Homo sapiens: one gene and its partners. The protein of the gene in region 7 purifies or fractionates together with the protein of the main gene of each other region. This does not show direct contact. Each region holds a gene or a part of one and is shown on either strand. Other genes may lie near its edges. The genes, in order: TBCA, YTHDF3, GLO1, NQO1, LANCL1, KCNT2 and TEK.

Region 1 (4,747 bases), on a different chromosome or scaffold from region 7:
TCCTTGCATTGCCACTAACTAGTAGTGTGACTTTAGACAAGTTTTTTTTTTCTTTTTTTAACTTCATTAAACCTCAGTTTCTCATATGTAAAATGAGAATCCAAACAGTATTATTAACATTTACTACCCACTTGCTATTTGCCACATACTGTATTAAACAGCATAGCAGGCAGTTCTTGCAACAACTGCTTGAGTTGGGTGCTTGCTCTATTTTACAAATAAGGTAAAAGAGGCACAGCACAATGTAATATATTCCACAACATAGAATAAAGGGCAGAATCAAGATCTGAACCCAAGCAGTCTCACTTCACAAATGGCTGTGCATTTAACTCCTACTCACATGGTCTCCTTATTGCCTTGGCAATAAAGCTTCCCGGGAAGTGGGATGCTGTGCTAAAACTCAGAAGCATTATCTTAAAAAGTGAATTTATTCTCCCTTTTGCCTGGTCCTTCCTCTGGTGGAAATATCAATAAACAAAGGAAAGGTGGGCGAACAGGAAGAAGCCAGTTGGTTTCTTTAGTAGACATTGCTACAACAAAATAACTTGCTTCTTCAGAAGGCTGTTTATCTTTTCTCTTGTAATACTTCATCAAAAAGTTTGCTCTTCTTGGGTCTGAACAATAAAGTTCTAATGAACACTGAAGGGTCTACCAGCACTCAGGAATGCAAACTAAAAACAAAATTCTAAGCTCCAAAACCGTCTGAATGGACCCCTCCTCTCAACTAAGGGCATTCTAAAGTAATTCAGGCCATGATGGGAAGAGGGGGTCAGACATGTCTCATTACACATTCCTCCCTTTGGAACTCAGGAACAATTGAGCAGCATTAACATTAAAACAGATCTTAAGGCTTTTTGTAACAATAAGACACCAAATTCCAGCTTTACTCTAGTATGGCATCACAGGACAGATAGCGGGATCTGAAAGAAATAAAAGCATTTTACTCTAAAATATATTTCTTTACATATTTTGAATTGGCCCTGCAAAGATGTCTCTTAAGGGGAAAATCTATATTCTGTAGAGAACCCTCTTCCCTGTCCAGGTCTTTTTCCTGATCCACTAGAAAATTAACTAGGAGTCTGGGACCTTTTTAAGTCTGATAAGAAACATTTACAATCTATTCTCTCTGAAGCCTGCTACCTGGAGGCTTCATCTGCCTAATAAGAACCTTGATCTCCACAACCCCTTTATTTTAACCCAGACACACTCCCTTGTATTGATTCCAGGTCTTAAGATAAACTCTTTCAACGAACTGCCAATTGGAAAACCTCCTATAACTTGGAACTGTCCCCAGCCCGCTTTGGGTTGTCCTGCCTTTCCAGATCAAACCAATGTACATCGTACATGTATTGATTGATGTCTTCTGTCTCCCTAAAATGTATAAAACCAAGCTGTAGCCTGACCACCTCGGGCACATGTCATCAGGACTTCCTGAGGCTGTCACAGGCATATCCTTAACCTTGGCAAAATAAACTTCTAAACTGATTGAGACCTGTCTCAGGTACTTTCTTGGTTTACAGGAATTTAAGCAAATTACAGGACTGCACTACCCATGAGTTTGTGAAAGGAAAAATAAATCTCAGGACCCCAAAATCACTAAGCCAAAAAGAAAAGTCAAGCTGGGAATTGCATCGAGCAAACCTGCCTCTCATTTTATTCCTGAATAAGATAGCTACAAAGATTAAAAAAAAAAAAAAAAAAGCTACATACCTCCCTGACAATTTGCCCCCAAGGAAATTCCTTGTGGGCCTCAAGACCTTCACTCTAAAACAGTTCTGTTGTATTTCACCCTGGCAATGTAAATTGATAGCTTATCTTCACAGGTATGGGACAAAGAACAGAACTCAAAGTCACCCCTCTACCCACCTGAGACAAATGCGTAACTGACTGCTTCCTCTGCCCTACTGTGTATGTAAAATCGCAGATTCATTTAGCCGACTAAGGCATAAGTGACTATTCTTCTATCCCTCTCTCACATGTAAATTGTGTATTAAGTGAAAAGCTGATCAAAGACTCAAAAGAATGCAACCATTTGTCTCTTATCTATGACCTGGATGCCCCCCAACCTTCTAGTTGTCCTGCCTTTCTGGAGGGAACCAAGGTACACCTTACCCATTGACTAATATCTGAGGTCTCCCTAAAACGTATTACACCAAGCTGTGCCCCAACCGCCTTGGGCACATGTCATCAGGACCTCCTGAGGCTGTGTCATGGGCACGTCCTTGGCAAAATAAACATTCCAAATTAAGACCTGTCTCAGATACTTCTGGTTCACAAGTTATTTAAACAGCATCTCACAGCCTCTGGGGCGAGCTTCGGGGAATCTGACTGGAGAAAGTGAGGCCACATAAGTTTGCTGAGTGTGCTAGAAGTTCAGGCCCAGTTCTCAAAGCCTGCCAGTCACGCCAGCCATGTTAGGTCACACGGCTCCACTACGGTCTTTTTTGACGAGGCCCAGATCCTCCGCATCCCCCTAAACTTCAGAGCCTGCTTTCAAGCCCATTTGAGAGCACAGCTGGGATCCCGCTTCCCCGGGCCAAGTTCAGCAAGGAGAGGCCGGCGCGCGCACACAGGAGGCACGGGATCAGGGCCCGGCCCGCCCTCGCAGGCCGCGGCCCACCACCTTCCCACCGCGGGCGCCGAGAAACCGGGCCACCGCCGACTCTTCCGGCAAATCAGAGCGGCCAGTGAGCGGAGAGGGACGGGAAGCGGCGTGCGAGGCTGGCGGGCTCGGGCGTCAGCGCGCCCCGCTGGGTCCCTGCCAGTCCCAGCCAACTGCGGAGCCCCGGGTGCGGCCTGGAGTTCGGAGCCCGCCTCGGGCCTCCTCGGGCCTGCGCTCCGCTCAGCCTCGCGGGCCGCCATGAGGTGACGAAGAGGAGGTGCAGGGCGCCGCTCCCGGCTCCTTACCGCTTCACCACGCCGGTCTTGATCTTGATCTGTCTCACGCGAGGATCGGCCATGGTCCCTCGAGCGCCGCGAGAAGGAGGGGCGGAGAGCCGGGGTAACCGTGGAGGGCGACGCGCAGAGGCTGCGGCTATTTAGGCGTGGTCGCCGGCGCGCATGCGCAGGCTGCGCGGCCCGTCGTCCCCGCCACGCCCCGCGGGGCGGGTTTACTAGAGGGCGGTACCCTGCTCCCGCCAGTCCCTTTACCCCTCGTGCGCCCCTTTACCCGTAGTGAAACGTGCCCTCCTCCTCTCTCTCGGACTGCCCCTCTTTTTACTTCAGGCGCAAGTTACACTATCCCGGTCTCCACAGCCTGGGCCTTTGGGGAAACTAACGTCTCTCTGGGACGTTGCTTTGCGGGATTATCTGCTTAATGGACGGAGTGACCTAAAAAATGTATTAAGGGTATTTTCGATGTCGTTATCTGGTGTCAGATGAGGCAGAGTGATGCATGTGTAGTGAAACAAACTGCCATCATGCACGCAGTCAAGAAAATCCTTGCCCTTTACCTCAAATCCCTGCAAGAAGGTTTGTAGATAACGTGCCTTTCAAAGGAAATGACTAACAGAACTTCTTCAGATGATCACTTATAGTGTATCCTAAATATTTAACTTACAAGAATGTGTGTCGCACACAAAACCTTGGGCTTCCTAATCAGACAAACCGGCTTACAATCGAGGTTCCACCCTTTAATAGCTAGACTATTAGCTAGACAACACTGATACGTATGCTGTTTAGCCTTGCAGCTGATCAGTCTGCAAAATGGAAATAATAATGTCCATTTTACAGATTAGGTATAAGGGTTAAAACACCTAGCTCATTGTCTGACGCATGGTAGATGCTGAACAACATTTGACTATTTTATATGTTCAAAAATATATTTGTTGCATAAAATGAGGCACATCTACAGTGAGCTCTAGCAGTCCCTTCCTAAGAGAATCTCCTGAGGAATACAGGGCAGAATCGCCCTTTTTAAAATTGCTTTTCTTTTTCTTTTTCTTTTTTTTTTTTTTGAGACAGATTCTCACTCTGTCGTGCAGTGGCTTGATCTCGGCTCACTGCAACCTCCGCCTCCTGGGTTCAAGTGATTCTCCTGCCTCAGCCCCTAGAGTAGCTGGAATTATAGGCGCGTTCCACTATGCCTGGCTAATTTTTTTTTTTTTTTTTTTTTGTATTTTTAGTAGAAACGGGGTTTCACCACGTTGGCCAGGCTGGCTAGAACTCCTGACCTCAGGTGAGGCCCACCTCACCCTCCAAAAGTGCTGGGATTACAGTCATGAGCCACCGAGCCCACCCCCTTTTTAAAATTTCTTGGTACCATCCTTCAAAGACACCCATATGACTGTCTTTTTCCTTCCCTAGCCTGACTTACTCATTCTCACTTTCATGACTGGTCCTGGAATCCCCTTCTATCCCGCCAGCCCAAGGCCGTTACTTTAAATCCAGGATCAAAACTGAGCAAAGTCTACTATGACTCACCCCACCTGTTCAATCTTCCCTGGATGCTTTGGAGTCACCCAGTAGTCATCATTATTTTTAGTATATTTCTTTTTCAAATTATTGTTTGGTCCTTCGTAAGGGTTTTGTTCAGCTTCGTAGTTATAAATCCTGGTTCATAAACATGTTTAGAGGCAAGATTCTTGTCTTCCATAAATCTTCCTTCCCCAACCTCCTCCACCTGTGTTTTGTGCACAATGGGCACAGAATTCAATAAATATTTTTATTCTGCTGGCTGGTATACTGATGTGCAATTCCAAGTCACACAGCAGCGCTGTGAAATACTGGAGGGAGGGGTAGATAAAAC
Region 2 (4,019 bases), on a different chromosome or scaffold from region 7:
CTGCTACTCACTACTCACTTACTATATAGGTACACTAGATGAATGAATCCATGTTATGGTTAATCTCATTAAATAATCTATTTGAAAAATCAACTAATACTAATAAAAGGTTAATTTCCTAAAATCTGAAACTGTCAGAAGACTTACCTGATTTGTCTGGCTACTTAAGTATGGCTCAAAATCATCATCATTTACAGCATCTTTTTGATGAATCGAACCGTTTTGTACTGAAACTAAAAAAATGTTTGTATTAGAAGTGTTGTAGTTATCTTTATGAAACTCGCAGCACAACCTAATGTTTTTAATATTTTTCAAGCCAAAAAAAGTAATCAGAAAAAATAATACTGAGTTATTTTTAAGAACCCTCTTAAGGATAAACTATTTTAGATACAAATATTCATGTGCCACAAAAACTTAAAAGTCTTTTGATACATAAGCCCAAGATTACATAAACACAAGCCATATATACACTTCCCCTTACCAAAAACTTTAAGTAAATATCCCAATCTCAACACTGTAGTGAGTAAATTGTTACATAAGAATGTTGGAAAGAGTTCCCTAATGCTATATTTGAATGTAAAATAACTATTTCAAGTAGCGTTGTAGGCAATAAAAAAGATTTCTGAATGTTCTCTACCTTTGTTTAAATCTCTAAATTATTTAGTATAATAAAGAATGAAATAACTATTTTCGATCTAATTTGTTATAGTAAATGTCTTAAATGTCTCCAGTAAAGTTTAGGCTAAAATTAACTTGAAACAATATCACAATGAATAGACTTATAATTATGAAATATCTAAATAAAGAGGGCTTTAATTCTAAGCCCCCCAGAATGAAGACTTTCACATGAAACTACAAACAAAATTAAGACACAAAAGATAGCCATAATTATCCTTGCAATACATGAGAAACAAGTCAGAGAATAATTTTGTTCAAAGGTCATCTCCATAAACACTCTAAAGTTGTTATTCTCTGGATGCTGTTTCAGAGTGCTTTTGAGCAGACTCAGAAGTAAGGTCCCGAATTTGAATCTCAAGTCCAGCACTGAGGAGATGATCTCCAGTTAGGGATTTAAACTCTCTAACCTTTGACTGTTCGCTGTTTCAGAAGGTTATGTATGAATAGTACCTACCTCATCTCATCTGATTATTAAATGACAGTGTTCAATAATCTTAAATGTAATCACATTAAATATTACAAGATCCAAATAGGACTAATATGACTTTAGAACCATTTAAACAGAAGTGTTACTAAGCTAATACTTGATGAGGTGGCACTATGTAAATATACTATTCTATACTAGTGAAGATAAAGTTGAAAGTTTCCGATGGATGTCTACAAATTAGAAACAAAAAGAACTCAGTATCTAAAGATTTACTGCTCAAAGGTACAACATCACCAAATTTTATGAAGTTAGGAGGGTGACGGGTTTAAATTGCGTATTCCTCTGTAATATAACATTTTTATTATCCTTAAATTTTCCCATGAGTGTAGAGCACCTAAAATGTAATATTATGAGTTAACAGTGGCTTGGGAGCAAAGATATACAAAATCCCTTAAATCTTTGCCATCCAATGAGTGGCAAAGATCAAAGATATGATGTTACTGTGTAAAGCATTCAAAGTAGACTTCTTACTACACCACACTGCCCCTCAGAGGCCACAAGAAGCAACCTGAAGGTCAACTTGATCCTGGCTCCACTAACATAATTTAACTATGTCTGATAAGGACTGCATCAGAACTAGGATTGAGCTAAATATGCTCCATGGAATTTAAATATGTAATAGCCACTAGAAACCAAAATAAAGAGGGTGCCTTAGGTTACTTCTAGTGCCATTATAAGGCTGGGTTATTCATTTCAGTCCAAGAGATTCTGACATACCTGTTCTCCTCTGACACTGGCTTTACTGCTCCTAAATCAAAGGTAAGTATGCATGGTCTATTACTTCTTGAAAAAAAATTCTTCACTATTACACTCATACATGTTAGTCAGTATTTGAAACAGCTAACAACTTAAAAATTATGACTAACTATCTCTCATATCCACTAGGTTCTCGAAAATCTAGTTCATACAAATACAAAAAGTGCCAGGCCAGGAGCTCAAGACCAGCCTGGGCAACACAGCAAGATCCCACCTTTACGAAAAATGTTTAGAAATTAGCCAGGAGTGGTGGCATGTGCCTATAGTCCTAGTTACTCAGGAGTCTAAGGAGGATCACTTGAGCCAAGGCATTCCAGGTTACACTGAGCTATGATTATGCCACTGCACTCCAGCCTGGGGTACAGAGTGAGACTCTGCCTCTATTTAAAAAAAAAAAAAGGAAAAAGTACTTACTTAAAATTTATCTGTATATATATATAAATATAATCCTGTTATTCTTATTTTTTTTGTTCTATTATTTCTCTTCTAAGAGGCTAGGCCTGAGAACAACCCATATACTATTATAAATACAGTCTACGGTCATTTTTAAATGATGCATAAATGTCTATAAAGTCTTAAAATATAGTACAAAAAGTCAATCTACTTTAAAAAATGTTTAATTAAAAGTACTTCACATATACCGAGAAGCAATTTGCATTAAACTAGCCCTTAAGTTTTGGAAGTGTATCTTAAAGAAAACTATCTTAAAGACTTTCGTTTTTGAATATTTACTTAATGACAAGCTAATGTCTTGGAGTCTGAAAACCATTAAATAGAAATGAAATCCAAGCTAGTTCCATAGTCTGTAAAATTTCTTCAGGGGTAAAAAGAACAGATGACTTACATGATTCTTCGCCTGTTTCCTCTGCTCTATGAAACAGAGTCAAATCAAGATAGAACATGGGCCTTAGGAGCCAGGTGATTCTTTGCTCTGGTCCTGACTACATCAAGTTAGGAAAGTCAACAGATCTGTGCATCATGTTTCCCCACCTACAAAAACAGCGACAATACCATATACCCGCTATCTCCTTACAAGGATGTTGTGAGGATTGATAAAATGAAGCCTAAAATAATGATAGTAAAGTGCTTTGAAATCATTTCTCGGGAGGACGAGGAGAGAATACAACAGAATATTGCCAAAATATAAGGCATTTTCCACTACTTTTCGAAAATTAAAACTTAGCCAAATTTAACCTAATTATTTTAAATTACAGTTGTATAAAACAATGCATACGTCTCTCCGTTGGAAGAGAGCGGAGAGGAGGAAAAAGATAAATCCTGTTCCATGAATTTGCTATTTATAAACTTAGAGGAGAAAGGAGGCAGTAAGGCCTAAGACTGTAAGTATGGCATCTGACACTTCCAACCATAGTACTCCCAAATAAAAGTACTGCACACCTTTATTCCAATAAGCAAAAATTCTACTTAATAAAAAAATAAAATACGAAGTGTTAAATTATGAACCAATAGGCAAATAATTATCCTTAAATTTCTACTATCCTTTGGTACTACTCTTGCCAAGGATAATAAAGAGTTCTGATATTTAACACAGGGACAGACTTAATTAAAAAAGAATTCAAACTTATAAAACAAGTAAACCTTGAATTATTACTTATTCTACAAAAAACATTTTTGCCATATCAAAGACAATTATTTAGAATTCCTTTTGGCTTCTGTAATGAATTAAGTAATTAAGGATATATAGAAAATCAAAGACACTAAAACTAGGTGTTAGGCTAAAGCTGTCAACTAAAGACAATTCAGAAAAGAAACAGGATCTCTGAAATTATAGTAAGTTGACTGAAAAGGATTACGTGTTCAAAACTTTAACTGACACCAACTTCTCAAGGACATACTATTTTTCATAAGCTTGCTAAGTTCAGAATTCAAGATTACTCATATTTAGAATACTGAGGTTGCAGTTCAAGAAAAATAACTTCATGAAAGTAAACAGAATTGTAAAACAATTTTACGAGCTGGGAACAAGCTAAGGCAGAAAAGCTTTTCTCAAATACACACATAGCTACTTATATCAGGTTCACTGGTAGTGTTGCCTTTGCCTTGTAATTCTCCCTGCAGTCATAAAAATACAAGTAAC
Region 3 (4,019 bases), on a different chromosome or scaffold from region 7:
AATACTTAATAGGTTTGTGGTTGGCATTGACTATAGCAGCCAGCTGAAGCCTGCAATACTGTCATCTTGATTGAGAGACTGGAGATCAAGGCAGAAGTGTATGTGCTAGCAGAAACTGGGATTAGTATTAACTACAGCTTTTTTAAAAAAAAAAGTCTACTGGAAATTAATTCTGAGACTTAAAAGTAAATCATGGTGAGATGGTAAGTGTAATTTTAGATCGAGACTCTGAAATTAAACAACTCCTAAATAAGATTATTTGTGGAAAATAAAAATAATCATATCTCTAATAAATTGATCATACTTAATTAGGACATTAATGTTTTAGGTTTATTAAAATCATAATTATATACATAATACAAAATCACACAAATCTACATATATCACATAAAAACAGGCAAACTTACCGAATCCTCGAGGGTCTGAATTGCCATTGTGGTAACTCTGGGTCTCATCATCTTCAGTGCCCCAATTGCTACAAAAGGAAGGAAAACATAGCTACAATGTCCTAGGGAATAGATATTCTGAAAAGCAAGTAACATCTTTGAAATCTTACCACGTTTATATGCTACTTTACATAATTGGCCTAACCCCTGCTACAAAAATATTAAGTTTTCAACTATAGAAAGGACAAATGGCCAAAGTATGATTTTAACGAGACTAAAGAGACAGTAAATACAGGTACTGGACAAGAACAATAATAAGAATAATAATAATGCTCATTTATTGTGCTAAGTACTTTATATTTCATTTAAACCCTTAAAACAGCTCCATGGGCTAGGTGTGAACATCTCCATTCTATTGATGAAACTGCCACTTACTTGTTTAGAGTCACAGACTCATATCTAAGCCTGCCTGATTCCAAAGCTTTATTTTGAATCAAGGGACACACGAAATCACACACTCTGAAATCAATCTCTTTTAAAGTATGCAGATAAACAATGTAAAGAAATTGCCTACATTTTTAAGTGCTCAAGTTATAAAAATACCAAATTTGAATGTTAATTATTACAAAATGGTTTGAAGAATTTTTAAAGGAACACATGATATCACATTTCTGGATCCAAAATGTAGCAAAATAATAAAAGAACAAAATTTTGGATGCTGAAAGACTAATTATAGTACCTAAAAATTAGTTAGAGACAAACAGGCAAATATCTTACAATTTCAGGGTCTTATATTCTCTTATCTAAAAGACAAATGGAGGCCGGGCGTGGTGGGTCACGCCTGTAATCCCAGCACTTTGGGCGGCCGAGGCAGACAGATCACGAGGTCAGGAGATCGAGACCATCCTGGCTAACATGGTGAAACCCCGTCTCTACAAAAAATACAAAAAATTAGCTGGGCGTAGTGGCGGGCGCCTGTAGTCCCAGCTACTTGGGAGGCTGAGGCAGGAGAATGGAGTGAATCCGGGAGGCAGAGCTTGCAGTGAGCCGAGATCGCGCCACTGCACTCCAGCCTGGGCAACAGAGCAAGACTCTGTCTCAAAAAATAAATAAATAAATAAATAAAAATAAAAGACAAATGGGCCAGGCGTGGTGGCTCATGCTTATAATCCCAGCAGTCTGGGAGGCCGAGGCGGGCGGATCACTTGAGGCCAGGAGTTTGAGACCAGCCTGGGCAACATAGTGAGACCTTGCCTCTATGCCTCTACCAAAAACAAACAAACAAAAACTAGCTGGGTGTGGTGGCACACATGTGTAGTCCAAGGTGCTCAGGAGGCTGAGGCAGGAAGACTACCTAGAAGTTAGAGGCTTCAGAGAGCCTGTCTCTAAAAAAAACACATCTCATTTGCCCAAGAACAATACAAAGATCAAAAGATGCATGAAAAACACTTCAATATATTATTAAAAATGTGAAGTCATAGGCAGATCTGGTTTGAATTATACTGGTCAGTAAACAAAACAAAAAAGATTTTTAAAAACTACCTTAAAAAATCTATAATATATATAAATATAGAAACTCATACTCACTGTGTCAGCTCAAGTGTAGCTTTTCTGGAGAGCGCCCAGGCTATTTTTTCATCTTTTTCTTTAGGGATGTCATTTTTATCCTCATAAGCCAAGAAGTAGAGTGAAAACTTCATAATGGGAAAATCACATTTTTGGATTAGCCTGCAATGAAAAAACAACAAGCCTGAATCATTAACAACAGGAAAGGCTAATTCATACTATAATCAACATAACTTAATATTCAAGTTTTACTAAAAAGAAGAGCTATATGTAGTAAGCCTATTTTAATGGAATAAGCAGGAGGAAAAATCAGTGAAAAAATATCATGAAAAATGCATCTGTAAATATTTGAAATACAAAAATGAAAACTTCTGTAATTCATCAATTCTGTAAATATAGTAACATTTAGCTGAAATTATGGTACTTGTTAATAAATAGAAACGGCTATCTCCAAAAGAGAACTGTGTTTATTTGTACTGAAAAATATAAAGAACCTTGTTGCTATTTCATATATATACACACATACAAACACATATATAAATATGTCATTCAGTTAAATAAACACATTTATTGAGTTCTTACTATGCCAAAACATCTAGGAAAGGAAATTAAGGATAGGTGGTAAGAAAGAAGGAGGAAGGACAGACTAGTATCACAGAAGACGTGAATGTCAACAGTAAGGTGGCTAACAGTATCAGATACTGTAGAAAGGTCAAACAGTATTAAGACTAAGAAAAGGTCATGAGATATGGAAAGGTCCCATGAGAGCAATGTCAGCAGAGTGGGGAAGCATCAGCTGGATTACACTGTACTGGGGAGAGAGAATGGCAGGTGAGCAGGTAAAACAGTAGCAAGCATGGCAGTGACAATGGGGAGGTAGGCGAAGGAGCAGAGGGCAAGAAATATTCTGGAACAAAGAAGACTTACGCTTCTCTGAGGGGAAAGAGACAGTAGAAGAGACTGATGGGAGAGAGAGTGAATGAATTATGAATCCTGAGGTTTTAAGAAAGATAACTGAAGTCCTGAACCTTAAATGACTTTAAATGGTATAGGATTATTTGGCAAGGAGTAAGGTGGCATGAGAATGCATATATGATTTTCTTTAGATTATTCAAAGATGACTTTGTTCATAATCAATAAGAGCAAATGGCTGTTATTGCCATATAGCAAATGGAAAGTTTCTAGAGTTCTGCTTCCAATCTTTTATTTCATTATCACTGCTATATAATAGACCTTGGCCCACTTAGATCCTTGCATTGACTTATCACAAATAAGATTTACTCTAACATGTTTATAATAAAGTATCAAACACCTCAAATACTCCAATCATGAAAAACAATCTCTGCACCTACTAAAGCAGACTACACAACCCTCATGGACCAATCAGTTGGGACTGAAGGAAATGAAACTGTTGCAACTTGCTTTTCTCAGCTGTTCAAATCTTCCAGCTTACTGTCAACTTGTACCCTATTTGGGGGCTCTGCACAGGAAGTCTACATTAGAGCCCATCAGACAATGGATACAGGTTCCAGCCCTGCCATATGCCAACTGTGGGATTTGGAGCTAGTAACTTCATCTCATTAAGCTTTGGTTTCTCCGTCTGTGAAATGGGGATAAAAGCTACCTCCTAAGACTGGTGTGAAGACTGAACAAAATAACATTTGAAGTGCCTGGCAAAAGTGTTCAATAAATCTGTTTTCATTTTGTCCTTTAAATATGTCATAAATATATTCATAATACCTTTTTCTAGAAAAAAATCACAAGAAACTGGACAGCAGTTATCTCTGGGGAGAAGAACTTGGGGAGGGAAGCTATTACTTTTCATTTTGTATTTTTCTGAACTGGTCAAATTTTCTAAATATAGACATATATTACTTAAATTTTTCTCTCAATGTGAATGGAAGTTATCTAGGCACTAAATTTAAAGATTATTTTATTATTCATGTATCTATATGCTCAAAAGCAAAATGCTCACATAACTTAGGGAAACAAATCAACAATATGACAAAATTATTTCTCAATATACCTCAGTAAAGCTGGAGAAAAAAAGAAAAATAAACATGCTTT
Region 4 (4,019 bases), on a different chromosome or scaffold from region 7:
AGGTACGGTTGCTCACGCTTCTAATTCCAGCACTTTGGGAGGCCAAGGCGGGAACATTGCTTGAGCCCAGGAGTTCAAGACCAGCCTGGGCAACATGACAAAAGCGAAATCCCTTCTCTACAAAACGTACAAAAATTAGCTGGGCATGGTGGTGTATGCCTGTAGTCCCAACTACTCAGGAGGCTGAGAGATGGAAGGATCACTTGAACCCAGGAGGTTGAGGCTGCAGTGATCCGTGATCGCCGCACTGCACTCCAGCCTGGGTGACAGAGGGAGACCCTGTCTCAAATAAACAAATTTTAAAAATTAAAAAAATTAAAATGAATTAACTATATGTAGTGACTCAAAAAGATATCCATGCTATATTATTAACTGATAAAAAAGCAAGTGAATATGAACCCATTTTTATTTAAAATGAAAGAAGTGAGAGGAAGGGAGAGAGGGAAGGGAAGGAAGAAAAAAGAAAATACAAAAAAAAAAGAAAAAAAGAAATGACATATATTTGTATGTAGACTTGCAGCACCTTGGTATGAGGGGGAAAAATGTGCAGTGATCACATTAAACTTTTTTTTTTTTTTGACAGTCTCACTCTGTTGCCCAGGCTGGAGTGCAGTGGCATGAACTTGGCTCACTGCAACCTCCGCCTCTCAGGTTCAAGCGATTCTCCTGCCTCAGCATCCCCAGTAGCTAGGATTACAGGTGTGAGCCACCGTGCCAGGCCAATCACATTGAACTATTAACAGCTCAGCTTCCTTTATAAGAAATGGCAAAGAGGTACAGGTAGAAGGGAAATGGGCCTCTTTTATATTAACAAGGTTGTCAGAGGCAGCATGCTTCAATTTGCAAGAACAGTATTTAGTGGATCCTTAGTGCTAGGCACTGCCCTAAGTGCTTTGCATTCCTTTTTTTTCTTTTTCTCTTTCTGAGACAGGGTCTCGATCTGTTGCCCAGGCTGGAATGCAGTGGCATGATCTCAGGTCACTGCAGCCTTGACCTCTCAGGCTCAAGCTATCCTCCCACCTCAGCCTCCTGAGTAGCTGATACTACAGGTGTGCACCACCACACCTAATTTTTTTTTTTTTTTTGTAGAGACAGGGATTTGCCATGTTGCCCAGGCTGGTCAAATTTGGAGCCGTGTTGCCCAGGCTGGGGCAATTTTGCCTGCCTCAGCCTCCTACAATGTTGGGATTATAGGTGTGAGCAACCACGCCCGGCCTGCACTTTCTTCCTTTGTCAGGACAACCTGCTATGTTTTAAACGTGTCCCCCTCCAAAATTCAGGTGCTGCCAATGTGAGAGGATTAACAGATGGGGCCTGTGATAGGTGATTAGGCGAGGGGGTCTCCTTCCTCATGAGTGGGATTAAGGCCCTCATAAAAGAGGCTTCGCCCAGCACGGGGCTCACCTGCCCTTCCACCTTCTACCTCCCACCGTCTATGTAAGGACGCAGCATTCCTCCAAATGCAGCTCTCACCAGACAGCCAAACCTGCCAGCACCTTGATCTTCGACTTCCCAGCTTCCAGAACTGTGAGAAATCAATTTCTCTTTTTTATTAACTACCTAGTCCCAAGTATTATGTATGGCAGCACAAAATAGACTGAGACACACCCTATGAGGTCAATACCATGAGTAGCCCCATGTTACAGATGAGAAAACTGAGGCACAGGAGAGAAGCAAGTTACCCAAGTGTGTAGTCATTAAGTGGTGAAGCTGGAATAATTTAAAAACACAGAGAGTGGCTGGGCGTGGTGGCTCACACCTGTAATCCCAGCACTTTGGGAAGCCGAGGCAGGCAGCTTGCTTGAGCCCAGGAGTTTGAGACCAGCCTGGCTAACATGGAGAAACCCCGTTTCTACCAAAAAAAAAAAAAAAAAAAAAATTAGCTGAGCGTAGTGGTGTGTGCCTGTAGTCCCAGCTACTTAGGAAGCTGAGGTGGGAAGATCATTTGAGCCAGGGAGGTGGAGGTTGCAGTGAGCCGTGATCACACCACTGTACTCCAGCCTGGGCGACAGTGAGACTTACAAACAGTGAGAAATACAAACAACAGCGTACAAGGGCATAGAGCGAATTGCCAGAGAAAGGACGCTTACCCCCACAGTTGCTCCTGATAATGTGCGCTGCTACTTCATACCCTACCATGAACAGTGGGTGGAGCTGGGAGAGAAGGCATCTGCAACTTTTTTGGCAGGGTGGGGGTGGGGGCGGGGGAGATGGAGTCTTGCTCTGTCACCCAGGCTGGAGTGCAGTGGCGCCATCTCGGCTTACAGCAACTTCTGCCTCCCGGGTTCAAGCGATTCTCCTTCCTCAGCCTCCGAATAGCTGGGATTACAGGCGCGTGCCACCACGCCCGGCTAATTTTTTGTATTTTTTGTTTTAGTAGAGACACCATGTTAGCCAGGATGGTCTCGATGTCCTAACCTCATGACCCACCTGCCTTGGCCTCCCAAAGTGCTGGGATTACAGGCGTGAGCCACCGCGCCCAGCCGGCATCTGCAACTTTTTTGCACCATCTGAATAACTAGAAATAACTAAAATAACTAGAAAGGCACATTTAAACCTTAAGCTCTCTTCCTGCTTTTATTATTGACCACATCTAGCAAGGCAAGTGCCTCTTGGGCTAAATTCAGCGAAGTGTAACTTTCAGGGCCCAATATGCCAAACCAGGGGATTTCCAAACTTGGTCCTAGGGTTTTGGACTCTTAAAACTAAGACTCAGTGGAATAGGTGTCTGGTGATGATTTCAATGCGCTGGAAGTGATTGACTTGCTTGGGATAGCTTGGAAAAAGGAAAAGGAAGCTCTGAGGCTGCCTCAACAAATTCCTACCTCTTTAACCCATGGATTTAACATGATTGGGAGGGAAGTGAGCATATTCAGCTCTAACAGGCATTTTCTTTGTAACTTACCTTGCCATTAGTCTTATCAATGTTTACTGATCGCCGCTCTGACAGTTTTTGTTTGTTTGTTTTTTTGAGACAGAGTTTCGCTCTGTCGCCCAGGCTGGAGTGCAGTGGCGCGATCTCGGCTCACTGCAAGCTCCGCCTCCCAGGTTCACGCCATTCTCCTGCCTCAGCCTCCAGAGTAGCTGGGATTACAGGCGCTCGCCGCCACGCCCGGCTAATTGTATTTTTAGTAGAGACGGGGTTTCACCGTGTTAGCCAGGATGGTCTCGATTTCCTGACCTCGTGATCCGCCTGTCTCGGCCTCCCAAACTGCTGGGATTACAGGCGTGAGCCACAGCGCCCAGCCAACAGTTTTTATTTTATTGACTTCTCATCAATGTTAACAAGCATTTTCTAAGTAGTAAGACAGTCAAGGCACTTCTCAGAAAATGAGCAAATCAGGATATCCATCTCTTGCTCTTTCAAGGAGCTCAGACTCTAATAGCTATAAGCAGGCCTGTGACTTTACAATTTTTCATGTAAGGCAACACACAAGCAGGAATAATATATTTGCAACAAATATAACCATCAAAGTGCAGTACCTGGAATAGGTAGATCCCCAAAACAACTCAAAAGAAAAATGATCAAAAGAAGGTTGTGGGTGGGTCGCGGTGGCTCACACCTGTAATCTCAGCACTTTGGGAGGCTGAGGCGGGCAGATCACCTCATGTCAGGAGTTAGAGACCAGCCTGGTTAACATGGTGAAACCCCGTCTCTACTAAAAATACAAAAAAAAATTAACCAGGTGTAGTGGCAGGTGCCTGTAATCCCAGCTAATCGGGAGGCTGAGGCAGGAGAATTGCTTGAATCCAGGAGGCGGAGGTTGCAATGAGCCGAGATCGCACCATTGCACTCCAGCCTGCGCAACAGAGCAAGCCTCTGTCTCAAACAAACAAACAAAAAGATGCTTGTGAATAGGCAATTTAAAAGTTTTCTGGGCCCTGGAGGGTTCATTTTCCCTTCCTGCCACTTAACTAGCTGAGCAACATGACCTGGGAGGAGTTAGACTATTAGAGTTTACCCTGAGAGAGGCCACAAGATGCACACACGGATAACCTCTTCAGGGTACAATGGCATT
Region 5 (4,019 bases), on a different chromosome or scaffold from region 7:
TGCAGAAATTGTTAAATAATGGGAGTGTGTCTGTCAAACAACGTCGTTTCTTCTAAAGAGTGAAATAAGGGATCATAGTGGTGCTTTAGATTAAATAATCCAGATGTGGTTGAAAGTCTGATTTGCCTTATCAAGGATGCTCCTCCGAAGTGAATCTTAACGTATCCTTAAACTATTGTTGTTGTTGTTAATTCTGATACTGCCTTCTTGCTGTTTTCAGTGTTAAGATTTTATCTCATTTTTAAAAATGAGATTCTGATGTGAGTGGTTAGGTTTATTTCTACAATCCTTACATGGTAAAATAAAATGTTTATACCCTTGTAACTTTCCCCCACATTGTTCTGAAATTTTAATTACTATGTGAAATTCAAGTCTTAGAATCACAGCAAGTTCTTAAAATTATTGAGGGAGACAATAAAGTGAGTTTTTTGGGTTTTTGTTGTTGTTGTTGTTGTTGTTTGAGATGGAGTTTCGCTCTTGTTGCCCAGGCTGGAGTGCAGTGGCACGATCTCGGCTCACCACAACCTCCATCTCCCAGGTTCAAGGAATTCTCCTGCCTCAGGCTTCCGAATAGCTGGGATTACAGGCGTTCACCACCATGCCCGACTAATTTTGTATTTTTAGTAGAGATGGGGTTTCTCCATGTTGGTCAGACTGGTCTCGAACTCCTAACCTCAGGTTATCCGCCCACCTCGGCCTCCCAAAATGCTAGGATTACAGGCATTAGCCACTGTGCCCGGCCTTCAGTGACTTTTTAAGACACTGATTCAGTGTGTGCAGAAGTTTAAAATTATTTTTCATTTGCCTTTAAGAAGAATAACGTAATGATTGTGTGAGCCTCACTGTTTGCACAGCATCTGTGGACCTTCATATGGGTGGTACTAACCCCACAGCCCCAGCCTTAGTGTATTTTCAATCCATATCTAAACTATTACTTGCCTTAGACCCTTGATCTGCTAAAGAATTAGTAAAAATGTCAACATTTACATCCCTGAATGAGAAAGACTTGTGATACACTATCTCATTTAATCCCCAAAGTACCTTTTGAAATTGGCGTGGCAGTTATTATTATCCTGACTTTATGGAGGTATTTGAAACATAAAGAAGTTATGAGTTGAGCAAGATCAGCTAATAGCGGGTAAGGATGTAGACAGGCTCATTCATTGAGAAACATTTGTGAAGCCCGTATTCTCTGCCAGACACTGTGCTGGACGTGGGTTTATGATGCTAAGTTTGATATTCTTTCTATTCTGCTTAAGGCTCTTGATATACATGAATTTGTTTTGCTTTTCTTTGGCTACTTCATTTTTTTTAAATCCTTTTTTTTAAATAAGAGCAATTAGATGTTTCTTTAGGGAATTTACCTTGCTGCAGCTTGAATACTAAAAATCCAGTAGTTTGAAAGCACCAAACATCTGATTTGTGCTTAATTTAATAAAAAGACTTTATTATAATATTGGTTTAAATAATAGACGATTACTATTAGGTGGAAAATTACTGTGAGCCAGTTTATCATTGGCAGTCTGTTTTAGTATTTAACTAAAAATTTTATTTAAAACATGTATAAGTTACAACGGTATTTTATAAATTTTGTTAATGTGATGTTGTTGTTTAAGAATAGAAAATAAATTGTTTAGTCTTCCAGGTGGAAAAATATGTCCTAAGTGGAAAAGAAATACCTTTCTGTCTTTGATAGCTTATAGTCCAGCAAGCTGGGTGACCCACATTATTTTGATACTTGTTTTCCTTTAATATCTAGCTGACTCCTGAGTTCTCACAACGCTTGACCAATAAGATTCGGGAGCTTCTTCAGCAAATGGAGAGAGGCCTGAAATCAGCAGACCCTCGGGATGGCACCGGTTACACTGGCTGGGCAGGTATGAAGTGCTGACTGTGAGCTGGCATAAGCATTGTGCTTAAGAGCCAGAGCATTTTTCCGAGAGCTGTCTGTCTGAATGGTACACCCTTAAATGCTTCCTGCATCTGCATATGAGTAATTGCTTCTGGGAGAGTGCTGTGCCCTCAACCCAACCAACCATGGTATCTTCTGGGTTTTTAATAGTGCCCTGAATTTAGGGCATGGTAAGCATATTCATGTAATTCATGCCTGACATTTGGATGGCTGCTATACTTGTGAGGAGAAAAATTGATTTTCAATATTACATAGTTAATTTGCAGATGTAATTTCAGTGGGAAGAATTGGGAAGAGTTCCAAAATACAATGCCTGAAGCGGAGGTAATGAGGATTGATCTCAGGAATAAAATATGTCCAGAAGCATGTTTTAAAAAGTTAACCCGTAACAGGAATCCATACAGGAATCCATACAGGGTAAAGTATTACTTCCATGAACTAATCCTCCCATATGGTCATTGCTGTTTGGTTTGCAATTGCTGCATTGCCAATCTCAATCATTGAGAGGCTGGAGGAGGTTTAGGAAGAAACAGTGCATTGATGTCAAAAAAAGGTGAGAAAGAGAAAAATCAAAGAAGAGGCTGGGCGCAGTGGCTCACACCTGTAATCCCAGCACTTTGGGAGGCCGAGGCGGGTGGATCACGAGGTCAAGAGATCAAGACCATCCTGGCCAACACTGTGCAACCCCATCTTTACTAAAACTACAAAAATTAGCTGGGCATGGTGGCTCATACCTGTAGTCCCAGCTACTCAGGAGGCTGAGGCAGGAGAATCACTTGAACCTGGGAGGTGGAGATTGCAGTGAGATGAGATCACTCCACTGCACTCCAGCCTGGTGATGGAGCAAGACTCCATCTCAAAAAAAAAAAAAAAAAAAAAAATCAAAGAAGAAAAGTTGAAGAACTGCAATTAATTTACCAAATGTAGAGAAACAAAAGACAGCTGTGTAATCTGGAAGAAAGCATAGTCTAGAGACTCAGTGTTTCCCATTCGCTTTAAAGAGTGGGCAAGGAGGAATAAGCTTGCAATCCAGGGAATTTTAATTTGATTTTAAGGAGTGGAATTTGTCATAAAAATGGCCTCATAGCAGAGATTGTGATTCAGTAGATCTTGAGCAGAACCCAGGAATTTGCCTTTTATAGCCATCAGTGGTCCTGATGCAGATGGTGATCTACAGACTGCAGTTTGAAAGCTTTCTGAGAGAAATTTATTAATAATAGCAATCTCTTATTAGTCTTCCTCTTTAGTACAGGTTGAGCATCCCAAATCTGAAAATCTGAAATCCAAAATGCTCCAAAATTTGAAGCTTTTTAAGCTCTGATGTGACACTCAAAGGGAATGTTCATCGAGCATTTAGGATTACCGATGTTCAGATTTGGGATACTCAACTGGTAAATATAAGCCAAATATTTCAATATTTGAAATCCAAAACACTTGTCCCAAGGATTTCAGATAACGGGTACTCAACCAATAATGACACATGATTCTATTTTTTTTTAAACAAGGGTAGGGAAGACAGATTAAACCAGTAAAATTAAAATCTCAGGGACTTTTAAAGTCAATGTTTTGTAAAAATAAGACTGGACTAGATAATGTTGGACCATTTTATTGTTTTATCATTTTTATGGATTGTAGAAGCTTAACACAAAGTTAAAATGAGAATGAAATGACAGGATTTTGTTTCAAGAAGGAAGGTATAACAGCTGCCATTTATTATCTACTGTGTTCCAGGTGTGATGTGGTTGATAGATAATGTCATCAGTGAATGTTGAACATTACTATTTATTTAAAATTATCGTGGTTTGAACAAAACAGGACAAGCACAGCGCACAGTTGTCTTGAGTTTTCCTCTTGATTGCCACATTGTAATAATATATAAGGCTCAAACTTACAGATCTTTTTCTAATATATATGGAGTTTCTATTATTTTGTTATTCCTTGCCAAAAAAAAAAATCACTAGTTAATTCTAGTACTGATTACAAAAGAATGACTTAAACTTCTAAATTGGCCATTCACATGTACTCATATTATTATTGTGAGTTACTTTGCTTTAGGAGGAAAAAAAAGGGGATTGATTTCAAGTTTGAATTAAGTTTGACAATGTTG
Region 6 (4,458 bases), on a different chromosome or scaffold from region 7:
AGCTAAGGAGCAAGGAAGCAAAAGTATTGATTCAGAAACAGCCTATTTACTCAGTGACACTCCAGCTTGTTCTCCAAGCAGGACTTGGATGCACCTGAGGTTGGTGGTGGGGAGAAAACCTCATGCAGGAGGTGTTCAAAGAAAGTTGCTTTGAGAATATGGGCAGAGCACTAAATGTATCTGTTGTTGGAAATGATCTACCTACTCCTACATGAAAGAGGGCTTCCTCCTCAACTCTATAAGAATTGAGTCCAAGAAGATAACTGAGTAGAATGAGATTGCTATCCAGGCGTAATTGCAAAGAGGAATTTGTCACCATATTATAGACAAGGAAGATGACTTTACCTACCACATATTAGCTTAGGAGTCTGAAAAGGGAGAAAAAAAGGATTGCAAAGGGCAAATCAGAAGTGAAGAAGGGAACTAATATTTAATGAGCACCTAAACTATGCTAGGTGCTGTAAATTATTCTTATAAGTTCAAATAAATTAAGTGAAAAGAACTTAAGAATTTCTTGAGGGATTTGAATAATAATAAACTGAACTGAAGAGTTATCTTTACACTGATAAGATATAATATCCAAGACACGTATTTAATTTACCAAAATTTCAGTTTCCTTGTGCCTAACATAATTGCCTGCTATTCAGAGTTTGTCTGAGGATTAACTAAGAAAGAACATACCGCACAGTTAAAAGAACTTGGGAGTACTTATTTCCAACTAAATGTTAGTTCTGCGCCTCTCCATCCTTCCTCTTGTCACAGTTTTATAAGGTAGACAGTATAATTCCCATTATAAAAAATAATATTGCTGAATCTCATAATGGCTGAATGACTTTCCCAAGGCCACTCAGCTAGTGAAGGAAACAGCCAAGGACTGAATCTGGGTTTCTCTGATTCCAAGTATCTTGCCTTCAAAGATTAACAACAAATGGAACCAAAACCAAAGAATAGTTTTCCATGAAGCCACAAAAGTAGCCAAATCCTTAAAAATGGTTGAATGATTGTTTTAAATATTTAATAACTTATTTTAGTAGTAAATGTGGCCTGCTTTTTAAGTTAAAGTTGGGCTAGCATAACCTTTTAATAGAACATAAAATTTTAACCATTCTGCAAAACTTTTTTAATATGGCACTGATCCATTTAGGCAGTGTTCAACTAACCAAAATTCTTAATTACTAAAATATTTCTGCAGCATCCTTAGAAAAATGAGGGCAACCACATGAAAATTAACATATTGGATATGATATTTAAAACAAACAAACAACAATACCATCACTATAACCAAAGTATGTGCTTTATGTGTTTAATCTATCTCACACTTTCTACAAAGAGGATTTCTATTCTATATAATGATCCTGAGGTCCTGAACTAAATATACATTCAGTCACTAGGAACACCATGCTACACTTACTAAGCCATTTAACCAGGCTAATGCAGTTTATCTAAATGTCAATTTGTATTACAAATTCACTTAAAAATTATTTTCTTTATCTTCAGTTTACCCAAACACTTTACAAGAATACTGAGAAATTGGTATTACTTCTTTAAATTTTTAGCCAATATGTGTGGTTTTGCCTAAAAAAGAGATTGAACCAAAATATCCTCTACAAAACATCCATCTCCTTTCAAATTACTAATATGAGACCAAACAAGATGCCCATAATTGATGCTCAAGATAAAATCCTCAGTGTGTAGAGACAGGAGTTGGTATTGGGAGCTGAAAAGGTGAAGAAAAGAAATAGAGTGTATTGGTCAGTGGTGAATGAGGAGGGGATTTTGGATTGGACCAATAATGGATCTTTTATATAACTAAAATAGCACATCAATACTAAACTAAACTTCAATGAAACATTTCAATTGAGTTGAGAACCTAGTTAGTATACATGTATTATTTTAAAACAAAGAAATGTGGCATGTGATATATGGGATGACTATTCCAGAAAATACTAAATTCGCTGAAATACAAAATGTGCTTGAGACAGAAATAGACAGAGGAATTTCAGAAGTTTGTGCAAAGCAGTAATGCTATAAATAAAACACATGAACAATATTTTGCTAACAATAAATATTCTAGTTTTGAAACTTAATTTTAATTTTGAGACATATATTCTGTTTCAGTTAAAAAAATATACTAGTTATGAAAAGGTTGTATCATGTTATACAAACATCATTATTCATAATGGTCAGAGTCACCTGTTCAAAGTGAGTATATTGTATTAAAAAGGTTGTCATTTTCACTAACTACCTGTTACATATTTAAACCAATTGTCTACTTAAAACTCCAAAATGTTTAAACAGCATAAAATTTCCAGTGCCAAGTAGATACCTACTCAAGACAACACAGACAAGGAGGAGGTAAATAGACTCAGGAGATTTTAAGTTTCTAATGTGCTTTTTCAAACAACTTGCATGCAATTTTGAGTTTGATTAACCACACCTAAGGAAAAAATGCAAATTTTCTGGAAATGATATTGCATACCATTTGGGTGTATTGTACCTCTGATACCAGCCTTATACACATCCTAGAAAAGCACAGATAGACAAAAGAATAAGCACCAAATGAATGCAATAAATACCTTGCAAGAATAAGAAAAGTGTAAAGAAAAAGAGTTCCTTATCTATAGCAACAGTTATATAGAGTCAAAATGGAGAGACAAATCAGAGTCTCTTTTACTCCCTCCCCCAGCCTAGTCTCCCTCTCTGGCTCCGTTTTCCTTTTCTCCCTCCTTTCCCCACTTCGGCCCTCCCATTTCCGTCTCTTTTTCAGCAATATTTACAGAACAATCCTCCACCACACCACTCACCTGTCGTCGTTTTGCCATCCTTGGTCCCCTAGCAGCAAATCTCGAAACCTGTACCTGGGAGGCAGAGGGGGCACTTCGCTCTCCAAATCAACCATCCTTCCTCAAAGAGTGGGAAACATCAAACAACAAATGGAGGAGAGGAGGGAGAAAGAAAGAAAATATTGCGGAGTACAGGGAGAGGACTAACAAGACGCTGTGGCCGAGAGAGGGATGGGAGAAGGGGAAGGGGACAGGGAGGGGGAGGGGGTCCGCTTGGAGCCGGAAGCTAAGGCTTGAAAGGGGGCTGGCTCCTCTTTCCCGAGGGTGTAATGGGGATGATGCAAACCCAACCCAGGAGCAAAAGTCTGGCTCTGACAAGAATCAACGCTGCCAAGGAACCGCCCCCAGGCTCGGCACCGCCTCTGGTCCCCAGGACTAGGGGGAGGCGGGTATAAAAAGTTACTTCGCCGAAAAAGACGCGCGGTGCCTAGAAAGAGGGGAGAGGGGTGGGAGTGAGCGCCGCTTGATGGTGAAGCACTTTCCTTAAAGGCAGTTGCCAGATCCTCCCAGAGGGCAGCCTCCCGGCTACTGTTCCCTCGGGCGGGCTTGCATCCGGCACAGCCCTGAGCTGGCGGGAATCGGGGGCGGTGGGTTTCGGCCCCAGACGCGGCCAACCCGGCTCTCCCCGCAATCTCCCTGTGGAGATGGAGCTGGAGGCCCAGCCAATGAGACTCCCCCTCATTAGCATAGCACAGTGACGGCACGGGGGTGCCTTGGGGACAACCAATGGGGGCGAGCTAATTAGCGGATTGCGGGGCTCCAGACCCTTCTCTGGGAGGAGGGGGGCCAGGGTGCTTGGAGTGTTCCACTATGCCACGAGCTCCCTCGCTTTGATTGCCTTCAGTCCAGGTGGGCGGGATGAAAAAATTGCACGTTTCTGGAAAGGGAATCCCCACTCTCAGCCCCAGGAAAATCCCATTTTTTTCTCACATTCTGAAAGAAGGGAGGTGTTTCCCTGAACTCGGGGAAAAAGAAGGGCCACCTTAGGCCGCTGAAGAGAAGCATTTAGATGACAGGGAAAGCACATGGAAACGCACTGAGGATTTTACAGTGGTGAGTTGCTGTTACTGCTGTCGCTGCTACTAGCAGCGTTGTGGGCTTCCAGGTGGCCTGGCCTCAGCCTTCGGTCCCCTCCTATTAGTGGTTCACACGGAGGAAGAAGTGAGCCCGAGAGAACAGGGTCTGTTTTTCAGTAAGAACCACTGCTTACATGAACCCTGCTACACAAGCTATGGTTCTATTTGCGCTTACCGTTCTTTCCTTCAAAAACTGATTGCATCAGAGTATATACAGACCGAATACCAACCACCTGACAGCCTGGGCCGGAGGATAACCATATGGCTTCTCCTGCCCTTACTTAAGAACCGCTCTGTGTGGAGGAACAAGCTTGTTCCTTGATAAATGGATACGATGTGAGAGACAATAATCAAAGAACATACAGAGGGATTTGGAAATACCTGTGAGGTACACATACTTCTTCGAGGTGGGGGTCAAGGAAGACATTGAAAATGAACCAAGCCTTCTATATTCGTTCGCAGCCTACTTTAGGGAAAAGAGCAAAGGTGAAGCAAGCAGAGAGAATAGTATGAGTAGAGGCATAGGGATTTTTTAGAAT
Region 7 (3,744 bases):
TGGTGTCATTCCTGAGGCCTCTGTTCTGTTCCATTGGTCTATATATCTGTTTTGGTACCAGTACCATGCTGTTTTGGTTACTGTAGCCTTGTAGTATAGTTTGAAGTCAGGTAGCCTGATACCTCCAATTTTGTTCTTTTTGCTTAGGATTGTCTTGGCTATGTGGGCTCTTTTTTGGTTCCATATGAAATTTAAAGTAGTTTTTTCCAGTTCTATGAAGAAAGTCAATGGTAGCTTGATGGGGATAGCATCTCGTTTCTATGAGTTACTCTATGGTAAAATTGGTTTCACTACATAGTACTGCAGTTTCCACAAACCTATCAATGACATTGTGTGAGGACTTTATTTAACATTGTAACACAATTAAAAGGAATTCCAATTCTAAGCCCTTGGTTCACACTGGAACACTCCCAAAGGTGTACTGCCTGTTGCAAGAAAAAGAAATAAGCAGTAGAACACTTCTAGGAGACCTTTTCAATCTGATGAGCTTCAGATTCCGTAACTGGTGGAGTATACTCGCACTACTCTAGGTGCTAGGGATGGATAATTTAAACGATTTTTCTTTAAAGTATAATAAGGACATGTGGCAATAGCTATGAGACACACTCCTGGATGAGACGTGAGTAGGCAAGACATTTATTCACTCATGATATATCAGTGCAAAGTGTGCCTACAGTATACAAGGTAAACTCACAACTCATCAAAACTAAAACTTTTTACAATGTGCAATACATGTAGGGATATTAATTCAATATATAAATGTCACATGTCTCCCAAATGTCACCCAGGCTTTCTGTTATTTCTTAAAATATACAAGTCAATATTACCAGAGAAAAGAAAAGAAAATCCCATTATTTTATCCTAAACTTATGTATACTTCTCTAAAGATTCTTAGGCTTGTAAGCAATGAGATTTAAGTCTATTTTTAGATGTTAGCATCCTGGACTGACTTGCAGGCTGTGGAAACACAAGACAGAGTGGTCACATGACTAAATGAAACGGGACTGGCTGCTACAGGTGAGGGATAAAATTGAGAGAGAAGAATCTGATTTATATCACTTAGATTTTTCAGTGTCTTAAATATTAACCTATGACTTGTTAGAATTCATATAGTTCTCTCACTTAACCTGTACTATCAGGGTCATTGTTAGGTTTATTAACAATATTTTACTTTGACACAGGAAAACATTTAATAGCATTCAACATAAAGGTAAATATCAAAATATCTAGGACAACAATGAGTTATGCATTATACTAATTGTACTCACGCCTTCCTATGAAGTCCACATTTTTAAAAAAATATATTATTGCATATGAAACCACAAACAGGCATTCTGATTTCAGCCCATTCTTAAAACAGTATATACAGTCCTATTAGAGTCAGAGCATACTACATAGATCCATGCATGGGATCTACAGTGGTGAAGGTCCCAGGTGTACAGCACATATGTACACTTATATATCACATCCTTTGGCAGAGGCATGTTTTCTCAGCAGGTGTCAAGGGTCTCCCATGCCAGTGAAAGGGAAACAGAGGGTATACAGATGTTCTGTCCTAGGCCGCTTCTTCAGCAGAACAGTCAATTCCTGCATAAGTAAACTTCTCATAAAGCGTGGTATTCACGTAGGTCTGGAAGAATGAAAATGGTTCAGAGACATAGGCTGCTTTGATTCCACCTCTGCCAGCGGCAGTTACAGCAATACCTTGGTTTTCTTAGTTTGTTGCAACTCATATACTAAGCACTTGGGGGATACTTTTCTGTCCTCAGTCCCTCTGTTGTATTTGATGACTTTCTTCCTAAAATGCATCCCCTTGCGTTCTGCAAGTAAGATTTCATACTGTATCCTCAGTTTCTGAGCTTGCCTTTCTCACAGTGTCTTATTGGTACCTCCTAATGTGTTCAGCTTCCCTAGGGTTCCTTCTTCTGGGTTCCTTCCTCTGTCTGAATCTCATTTTCACATCTGTGTGATCTCACCTGCATCTCTAGTTGAATTACCACTTGGGTTTTGATGACTATTTCTTTAAACTGTGTTTACTTTTATTTTGACTCCCAGATCGGTACAGCCAACTTACTTCTAGAAATTTTTATGGAGTTCCTGACCCTCATTATAGTAACCTGCAGGTCAGGCTCTGTTGTCTACTTGCTGTGTGTCCTTGGTCAAGTCACCCACTTCTGAGTCTGTTTCTTCATCTATAAAATTAAAGGGTCAGGCTATATGACGAAAATTCCTTCCAACTCTAATAGGCTAATTCTGTATGTTATTCTAGTGTGTACGTGACTGTATCTTGTATAGAAATCTTATTTCCCCCCAAAATTGTAACTTCTTCAAAGTCGCGGGGGTGGAGGGACATCCTTTGTTTCTATAATACTTAGGGCCATGCCAAGAAGAACTTCTTCAATTATTTCAATGTTTTTTATGAACCACCCTGGGCACATCAGGTATTCCAATTAAAGATCTCCTGCCTGACTTTAATACTTACCTTTCGCTCCTCTAACATTCTGTTTAAGGACACCAATATCTGGGCAAATGATGGCCTCTCATAAGGCTTCTCCCGCCAGCATTGTCTCATTAGATCATACCTTCGAAAGCAAAGAATTAAAGGGTTAATTCTATAACTGTGCTTCAGTCCTAGGCACGGCAGGAAAAGAGAGGAGAGAATGAAGCCACCCAATGCATGGTTATGAAGCTTAACCAAAGTACAGCCCCTAGGAAGTTTCTATGAGGACTCCCACCTCCCTAAGCCAGTCTCATTTCAACTCCTCATAGATTTAGTTCCTACCCTCGGTACTGTTTCTGCAGGACCTTGGTCTCAGCTATTGCAATCATCTAGAAAGAACTGGGTATGTGTCTAGAGCAGCATTTGCCTTGGAATGCTGCATATTTCAAAATGTTAGTGTCTCTTAAAGGGCCCATGCTCAAACTTGTAAAATGCCACCCACATAAAGTCCCTTTAAGAGGCAGGACTTTTAGAAGCACTGTCATTAAAAACAAAAAAATGCCTGTTTAACCAGGTGCTATGGACTGAATGTTCATGCCACCCAAAAATCATGTGTTGAAACCATGTGATGGTGTTTGAAGGTAGGTCCTTTGGGAGGTGATCAGGTCATGAGGGTAGAACCCTCATGAATGGGATTCGTGCTCTTACACAAAAGGCCTCAAAGAGCTCTTTTGCCCCTAGTGCCACGTGAGGACACAGCAGAAAGATGGCCATCTATGAGCTAGGAAATGGCTCATGGCCACCAAATCTGCTAGCGCTTTGATCTTGGATTTCCCAGCCTTCAGAACTGTGAGAAATACATCTCTGTTGTTTATAAGCCACCATGTTTATGGTATGTTGTTACAGCAGCCGGAAATGACTAAGACAACAGGTTTAACACAAAGTTTCCAAAGTAATTGACCGCAGAACTCCTTTCCCCTTGCATCATGTATTTATATCTTGCACAACACGTGAAAACATAGTTTGGGAAACACTGACCTAAGACAGTGCTTACTCAGTTGTGCTCAGAACTACTCTGTTATTAAAATGCAGAATTCTGGAACCTGCCCTAAACTTACAGAATCAATGACTGACAGTGGGGACCAAGAGCCCACATGCTGAACAAATGACTCTGGGGAACCTTATGTGCATGGAAGGCTATCAACCATTGGCTTAGGGTGTCACAGATCCCAGAACAGCTTACACTTTAACATAAGTTTCTTAAAGACTAAAAAATCTTCTCACCCCTTATGAAGTGAATCTCA

What was found.
Region 1: the proteins of TEK (region 7) and TBCA purify together in Homo sapiens (affinity purification with mass spectrometry; one large-scale study listed by BioGRID and IntAct). This does not show direct contact.
Region 2: the proteins of TEK (region 7) and YTHDF3 purify together in Homo sapiens (affinity purification with mass spectrometry; one large-scale study listed by BioGRID and IntAct). This does not show direct contact.
Region 3: the proteins of TEK (region 7) and GLO1 purify together in Homo sapiens (affinity purification with mass spectrometry; one large-scale study listed by BioGRID and IntAct). This does not show direct contact.
Region 4: the proteins of TEK (region 7) and NQO1 purify together in Homo sapiens (affinity purification with mass spectrometry; one large-scale study listed by BioGRID and IntAct). This does not show direct contact.
Region 5: the proteins of TEK (region 7) and LANCL1 purify together in Homo sapiens (affinity purification with mass spectrometry; one large-scale study listed by BioGRID and IntAct). This does not show direct contact.
Region 6: the proteins of TEK (region 7) and KCNT2 purify together in Homo sapiens (affinity purification with mass spectrometry; one large-scale study listed by BioGRID and IntAct). This does not show direct contact.

The regions. Positions count from the first base shown.
Region 1 is NC_000005.10:77,773,298-77,778,044, forward strand, and holds the start of TBCA (tubulin-specific chaperone A), read right to left. Parts: upstream 3,043-4,747; 5' UTR 2,961-3,042; coding exon 2,908-2,960; intron 1-2,907. UniProt on the Homo sapiens protein: Tubulin-folding protein; involved in the early step of the tubulin folding pathway.
Region 2 is NC_000008.11:63,171,545-63,175,563, reverse strand, and holds part of YTHDF3 (YTH domain-containing family protein 3), read right to left. Parts: intron 2,912-4,019; exon of another isoform or gene 2,824-2,911; coding exon of another isoform or gene 2,766-2,823; intron 1,914-2,765; exon of another isoform or gene 1,883-1,913; intron 234-1,882; coding exon 148-233; intron 1-147. UniProt on the Homo sapiens protein: Specifically recognizes and binds N6-methyladenosine (m6A)-containing RNAs, and regulates their stability. M6A is a modification present at internal sites of mRNAs and some non-coding RNAs and plays a role in mRNA stability and processing.
Region 3 is NC_000006.12:38,682,401-38,686,419, forward strand, and holds part of GLO1 (lactoylglutathione lyase), read right to left. Parts: intron 2,115-4,019; coding exon 1,974-2,114; intron 476-1,973; coding exon 408-475; intron 1-407. UniProt on the Homo sapiens protein: Catalyzes the conversion of hemimercaptal, formed from methylglyoxal and glutathione, to S-lactoylglutathione. Involved in the regulation of TNF-induced transcriptional activity of NF-kappa-B. Required for normal osteoclastogenesis.
Region 4 is NC_000016.10:69,719,975-69,723,993, forward strand, and holds part of NQO1 (NAD(P)H dehydrogenase [quinone] 1), read right to left. Parts: intron 1-4,019. UniProt on the Homo sapiens protein: Flavin-containing quinone reductase that catalyzes two-electron reduction of quinones to hydroquinones using either NADH or NADPH as electron donors.
Region 5 is NC_000002.12:210,469,817-210,473,835, reverse strand, and holds part of LANCL1 (glutathione S-transferase LANCL1), read left to right. Parts: intron 1-1,759; coding exon 1,760-1,877; intron 1,878-3,502; exon of another isoform or gene 3,503-4,019. UniProt on the Homo sapiens protein: Functions as a glutathione transferase. Catalyzes conjugation of the glutathione (GSH) to artificial substrates 1-chloro-2,4-dinitrobenzene (CDNB) and p-nitrophenyl acetate.
Region 6 is NC_000001.11:196,605,411-196,609,868, forward strand, and holds the start of KCNT2 (potassium channel subfamily T member 2), read right to left. Parts: upstream 3,031-4,458; 5' UTR 2,900-3,030; coding exon 2,805-2,899; intron 1-2,804. UniProt on the Homo sapiens protein: Sodium-activated and chloride-activated potassium channel. Produces rapidly activating outward rectifier K(+) currents. Contributes to regulate neuronal excitability.
Region 7 is NC_000009.12:27,227,044-27,230,787, reverse strand, and holds the end of TEK (angiopoietin-1 receptor isoform 1 precursor), read right to left. Parts: intron 2,583-3,744; coding exon 2,483-2,582; intron 1,631-2,482; coding exon 1,556-1,630; 3' UTR 614-1,555; downstream 1-613. UniProt on the Homo sapiens protein: Tyrosine-protein kinase that acts as a cell-surface receptor for ANGPT1, ANGPT2 and ANGPT4 and regulates angiogenesis, endothelial cell survival, proliferation, migration, adhesion and cell spreading, reorganization of the actin cytoskeleton, but also maintenance of vascular quiescence.